Homo sapiens: one gene and its partner. The protein of the gene in region 1 purifies or fractionates together with the protein of each later gene. This does not show direct contact. Each region holds a gene or a part of one and is shown in the gene's direction. Other genes may lie near its edges.

Region 1 (3,010 bases):
TTCTCCCTGTCTAACTGAAATTTTGTATCCTTTGACTAACATCTCCCCATCCCACCATCCAACTCAAGCCCTGGTAATCACCATTCTGCTCTCCACCTCTATGAGACCAACTTTTTCTGATTCCACATATGTGAGATCATGAGGTGTTTGCCTTTCTGTGCCTGGCTTATTTCACTTAGCATAGTATCCTCCAGCTTCATCCATGCTGACACAAATGACAGAACTCCCTTCTTTTTAAAGGCTGAATAGTATTCCATTGTATCTATGTGTCACATTTTCTTTAACTTTTCATCCATCCATGGACACGTAGGTTGATTCCATGTCTTGACCATTGTAAATAATGCTCCAATGCATATGGGAGGGAAGATATCTCTTCAATATACTGACGTCATTTCCTTTGGATGTATACCCAATAGTGGGATTGCTAGATCATATAGTTGTTCTATTTTTTGTTTTTTGAGGAACCTCCATACTGTTTTCCATAATGGCTGTACTAATTTCCATTCCCACCAACAGTGTACCAGCATTCCTTTTTCTCCCCATCATCAACACTTGTTACCTTTTGTCTTTTTGGTAATAGCCATTCTTACAGGTGTGAAGTGATATTTGGCACTTGATGGTTAGTGATGCTGAGCATTTTTTTCATATACTTTTTGGCCACTTCTATGTCTCCTTTTGAGAAGTGTCTATTCAGGTCCCACGCCCATGTATCCATTTTACTTGGATTATTTGATTGTGTGCTATTGAGATGTTTGAGTTCCTGTGTATTTTGGATTTTAACCAAAATCTTGGATCTTTTGAATATTGACCCTCATTCTGTAGGTTGTCTCTTCACTCTGTTCATTGTTTCCTTTGTCATGCAGAACCTTTTTAGTGTAATGTAACCTCATTTGTCTGTTTTTCCTTTTGTTGCCTGTGCTTTTGGGGTCATAGTCAAGAAACCATTGCCCAGACCAACATCATGAAAATTTTCCCCTATGTATTCTTGTGGTAGTTTTACCATTTCAGATCTTATGTTTTAATCTTTAGTCCATTTTGAATTAATTTTTACATATGATGTGAGATAAAGGTCTTATTTCATTCTTCTGCATGTCAATACCTACTTTTCTCAACACCATTTATTGAAGAGCTGTCCTTTCCCCATTTTGTGTTCTTGGTATCTTTCTCACAATCAATCAACTGTAAATGCATTGATTTATACCTGGGTTCACTATTTTGTTCCATCAGTTTATTTACCATTGTTGTGCCATTACCATTCAGTTTTGATTACTATACTTTTGTAACACGTTTTAAAATCAGGTAGTACGATGCCTCCATCTTTGTTCTTTTGTTTGTTTTGCTTAAGATCACTTTGGCTATTTGAGGTCTTTTGTAGTTCCATACAAATCTGGGCGTGGTGGTGCGTCGCCTATAATCCCAGCTACTCGGGAGGCTGAGGCAGAAAAATCGCTTGAACCAGGGAGTTGGAGGTTGCAGTGAGCCGAGATTGTGCCACTGCACTCCAGCCAGGTGACAGAGCAAGACTCTGTCTCAAAAAAAAAAAAAAAGACACATGAATATACATAACAGTCAGGATGTCCTGATGGGAACCATGAAGAATAGTTAAGTGACAGGAGATAGACAAGGTTGGTGGGGCCTCTCGGGGATGGTGATTTGGGCTGATATTTAAAGTTGGACAGGGCCAGTCTTGCAGAGAGCCAGGAAGAGTGCTCTTGAGAAGGCCCTGAAGGAATGAGAACCCCAGGTTTCGGGGGCTTGGGGAGACTGAGCGAAGACAGGGGGCCACTGTGGTGAGTGGACAGCAAACAGGTCAGGTGGACCAGCATGGGCAGATCACATGTACAGTAGGTTGGATGTTATTTTGTGAGTGACGGCGTAAAAAAAGTAAAATATCTCAATGATGTGTATTGATTACATGTTGAAATGTAGTATTTCAGATATTTTAGGTTAAAACTATATTGTTAAAATTAATTTGGCCTCATTCTTTTTACTATTTTAATATGGCTCTCATAGAATTTGAATTTTGCATAGAATTTGAATTTTGTATTATATTTCTGTCAGCAGTGCCAGTCAAAGGTATGTAATAGATGCTGAATGGATGACAAGACCAAGCCTGGAAGAGTGGATTTCTCTGTCTCAATTCCAGTGAGGGCCAAAAAAGAAGTTTCCCCACCACTGTCAGCCTCTGGGAATTCTGTGGTGACTCATTCATTGGCTTTTCTCTTCCTTCCCAGGATCTCATAGATCAGAACATACTGGAGCCTGTAACCCGTGCACAGAGGGTGTGGATTACACCAACGCTTCCAACAATGAACCTTCTTGCTTCCCATGTACAGTTTGTAAATCAGGTACAGAATGTGTGGACCTCTTGTCCAGAGGTGGAGCGTGGGGCAATGAGGTGGGAGTTGTAGCCGATATGAGTCAGGGAACCAAGTTCCAGCCCAACCTGGTCTTCATCACCCTGTTCTATGATTATATATTTGACTGATTAAAAAAATAGAAAGAAATCTTTTCTATAATGCATGCCACCTGGCTGGGAAATCGTCTAAACTGTCAGCTGCAAGAGGGTGGGGGGATCATTAGAGCATAGAGAAGGCCTGGCCCAGTGGACAGGGCTAGGTTTCAGTAGTGGCACGGGTCTGCTCCAGGGCCAGGCTCTCTCCCCCAGGCTCTGTGCTCCTGGCAGGTGCTCGGCCTCACTCAGCCTTCAGGTTCTCAGGCCCCTTCCTCCTCCCCAGCAGGCCCAGGCTTTGGGGAAGTCCCCCAAGGCCTCCGTCTCCTTGCAGAGTCTCTCAGGTGATGCCCTTGCACCTCCCTTGCTACTGACCATGCCATCTAAACAATGCTTTTCCCCTAATCTGATGTAATAAATAATGAATTATGCTCCTTTTTATGACTCCTCTGAGTGCTGGTGACAGCTGAAGGGTGGGTGTCCTGTATGAGCCCTGAGTGTGCTGGTGCAGAAACTGGCCCTTAGAACTCCTTGGTGAACTTGGTTGAGCTGAGTGGG
Region 2 (3,749 bases), on another chromosome or scaffold:
CCGTGTCTAGTTATAAAAATCTAAATTTATAGATGGGCCTGCCAAAATAGTTTTGAAGTCTATTGCCCTTGTCACGGTGGCTCATACCTGTAACCCCAGCACTTTAGGAATCCGAGGCGGGTGGATCACCTGAGGTCAGGAGTTCGAGACCAGCCTGGCCAACATGGTGAATCCCTGTCTCTACTAAAAATACAAAAAATTAGCCAGGCATGGTGGCACGCACCTGTAATCCCAGCTACTCGGGAGGCTGAGGCAGGAGAATCGCTTGAACCAGGGAGGCGGAAGTTGCGGTGAGCCAAGATCCTGCCATTGCACTCCAGCCTGGGCAACAAGAGCAAAACTCCGTCTCAACAAAAAAAAGATAAAGTATATTGCCTCTGAAATAGAATCCTTATGTAGATTTCCCAGTTTAGTGTGTGTACTTTGTTTTCAAACTCCCATTCCTTGACAATATAGGAAAATTTTTTCTCTAATCTCTTTAAGGAACACAAAAGTCTAAGAGCCAACAAATCACATTACCTTTAAGCTTGAGAGCAAGGAGTTTAACTTTCTGCTCATTGAATTTATTAGGAATTATCCTAATGGCTAGGAGAATGAACAGTTGGCCCATAGCCATTGATTCTTGGTCGCTAGTAAGCATCGTCCTCCTAATAGAAAAGAGGTTGTGCCTGTCTGCAGGACTCAGTCCCTAGGAGACCCCACGCTTCCTCTGCTATATTAGGTGAAAGCTTTGATCCCATGTGTTAAAGTGCCCCTTTCACAAAAACGACCCTCCCTTTTCTTTCCTCAGGCCTGGAATTTGCATACTCAGCTGCCCCCAAGTCCATGCAGAGTGCCATAATGGGCTTGTTCTTTTTCTTCTCTGGCGTCGGGTCGTTCGTGGGTTCTGGACTGCTGGCACTGGTGTCTATCAAAGCCATCGGATGGATGAGCAGTCACACAGACTTTGGTAAGAGCCAGCATCCTGTCCCTTTTGAAAATAGCCAGTGAGGGGGAGGCGCAGGCACTCAGGAGATGGCTGAGTGAGCGGAGGTGTTTTCACGTGGATGGCCTGTCCCGAGCTGCCTGTCCACCGCTCCTTCCACAGCACTGCTCTGTGCTGCTTGCATCACTGTGTTTCCTTACATCATGAACGGTTTTCAGGAGACAAGCAGGCCTCTCTTCTCATCCCAGGGGCCAAGCCTGCCCTGGCCACAGCCCAGCGAGCAGCTGCTGCAGCCACCGCTCCTTACGGGGACGTCCTTGACAGACAAGCACCTTCTCCACGCCCGTCCAGCTCAGTCTTCGTGAGGCAGCTGAATCTGTACCCCAAGCTTCCCTTTCTTTAACTTGGTGGTGTACTTTCGTTTTCTTTTCCTAACAGCACCTTTTCTGATACGAAAAAGACAAGATAGATAGTAAGTTACTTTTAAAAATAAACATATTACTTGTGATCAATCATAATGGGTTTTTACAATTAATACCAGTAGGTGGCATCTTGAGTGTTGAACAGAACCACTCATAAAAGCTGAGTTTTGCTTTCTCCAGGTTTACGATGCCTTTAAATGGACCCAGCAAGCGAAGGTTTCTTCTTTCTTTTCCTTTGTAAAAATATTTTATCTACAGAAACAACCTTGTTACTTTTTCTTGTATAATCATGTGGCATTTGCTCTGGTCCGGTAGTACTTAGCCACTTTTAGGTTACAAATCCCCTTGAGAATCTGGTGAACGTTTAGGGACTTTTCTGCAGAAATTGCAGAATTCCCAGAGCCCTTCCATGAGTATAGGCCTGTGGAGTCCTAATGTAAAGCCCAGAACTCCAAGCCACCAATGTCCCATGGACACTTGTCACTGATGTTTTCTGGCTGTGGGTGCCACCTCCATGGCCAGCTCAGGGCTGCTTGCTCTGAGGAGGACATGTGGATTTGGGGCTGGTGTTTCATTCCCACCTTCTCCTGAAGATGAACAGCCCGAGGAATAAGATCCTCTTGTGGTACATGGGACAGACTTCCTTCAAAGAAAGACCAAAGTCCATAGTTCTGAAGACGAAGATTCTGGTTCTTGGTTTTTGTTTTATCTTTAAATGTGTCATAAAGGATTGGCTGGTCATTCTCGTTGCTTTCTAGTCATTTAATCCTCATTCTTAATTTAATTTCACATCTCAGAGTTGACCTTTCATTCATCATTTCTGTCTGACAGGTTGTTTGTGGACTTCCCCTGCATTGGTGCTCTCAGGGCGTGTGTGCTGGGGATGGGCCAGGATCTGTCTGTTGTTTTCAAGAATGGGAAATGTTTCATGAAGGAGGCGTGTTTGCCAGCAGCCCCCAGGCTGTGCCCCCTGGCTGCATGGCAGCCTCCTTGGTTCACACCAGTAAGGAGAGTTGGAGCTCATCTGTCGAGCAGCCCTTGGCGTCCTGGGTAGAGAAATAAAGGCTGTGACATGGGAAATCCACAGGAAGCCCGCTCCTCAGAGAGAGTTCTCCCTGAATTTGTGTGGCCTTGGAAGGAGCAGCAGCTCTCAGGCCAGGTTCCGGGGGTGTCTGTGCCACCCTTATCCCTGGCCCTACCTCACCATCTCGTGACCGACACAGGAAATAGCTTTCTGTAAAGTCACAGCACTGTGAAGGGAGAGTCCCCAGAGTTTTGTTACATTGTGTTTTTCTTACCGACCTCCCAGCAGGCTCCTTTTATTAGTGTTATTTAAGCTGGGGAGAACGTGCATACCATAGTAAAGGTCTCTAATCTTAAGCACAGCTTGCTGTGTTTGCAGTCTGGATCTCAGTGGAGGAACTTTTGGAAGCCCTCCTTGCCTCTCTCCTTAGTTTACTGCCCCCCTCAGAAGGTAAACCTGTTCTATTCCAGCGTTGGTCCCCACAGGTTACCCTCGCCTGTCCTGTGCTGGGCTGTGGCTGTCTCCTTTCACTTAGCACTTCTGTCTGTGAGCATCTCCCCTGTACTTCTGAGTACTGCTCCTTCGTACGAGCCGTCACGAGGCATTTATCCATGCTGTTGTCGGTGGGTGCCCAGATGTTGGCAGTGTGGGGCTGTTGTGAATACCTGCCCTGCCTGTGAGCCTGGGGGGCGGGTGCGCTCATTCCTTGGGGACCCAAGAGTCTGTCTTGTCAAATGTCAAAACCCTAGTGTTTGCCATCTTCCTGTGTAATTATCCTTCTGTCTGTGAAGAGGCCCAGGAATGCACGGCAGGTTTTCTCCCAGGCGACTTAGGCGTTTCCGAATACCCTGTGTAATGCCACCCTGAGACAGACCCTGACGAGGCGTGGTGTGTCTGCCTGCGGGCTTGGACCGCACCTCCACTCCCGCAGGGCCGCGCAGCCTTCAGTTCATGTGGCCTCAGCCTTCAGTTCACGTGGCCTGCCAGCTTTAGCTCGGGAAGTTTTCAGTGACTGGTACATTTGGGGAGACTCGTATTTCAAAATAGGCACATAAAATGATGTCGTTTATATTTTGATGACAACCTCGTCTCAGTAGCGTCAAATGCCAGTGTTGGGACAGCAGTGACAGCTAGTGCCAGGCTCCAGGAAGCTGGGGTTTGCATTTCCACTGAGTGCCCAGGACAGAGCCTGGTAGGTCGTAAGGGTTGAACGAATAGTGTAAAACATCTGTTGAAAAAATAAAGCTTTAGTCTGGTAGAATTCAGGGTATTAGCAGCTGTCTTTCTAAATCAGTAGACACAGGAAATGATCTTCTTTAATTGGTGTGAATGAGCACTCTTTAAAAATGTGTGAGATCTCACCATACAGATGTGTGGG

What was found.
Region 2: the proteins of TNFRSF10C (region 1) and SLC15A4 purify together in Homo sapiens (affinity purification with mass spectrometry; one large-scale study listed by BioGRID and IntAct). This does not show direct contact.

The regions. Positions count from the first base shown.
Region 1 is NC_000008.11:23,112,423-23,115,432, forward strand, and holds part of TNFRSF10C (tumor necrosis factor receptor superfamily member 10C precursor), read left to right. Parts: intron 1-2,234; coding exon 2,235-2,348; intron 2,349-3,010. UniProt on the Homo sapiens protein: Receptor for the cytotoxic ligand TRAIL. Lacks a cytoplasmic death domain and hence is not capable of inducing apoptosis. May protect cells against TRAIL mediated apoptosis by competing with TRAIL-R1 and R2 for binding to the ligand.
Region 2 is NC_000012.12:128,796,459-128,800,207, reverse strand, and holds part of SLC15A4 (solute carrier family 15 member 4), read left to right. Parts: intron 1-790; coding exon 791-949; intron 950-1,143; exon of another isoform or gene 1,144-3,749. UniProt on the Homo sapiens protein: Proton-coupled amino-acid transporter that mediates the transmembrane transport of L-histidine and some di- and tripeptides from inside the lysosome to the cytosol, and plays a key role in innate immune response.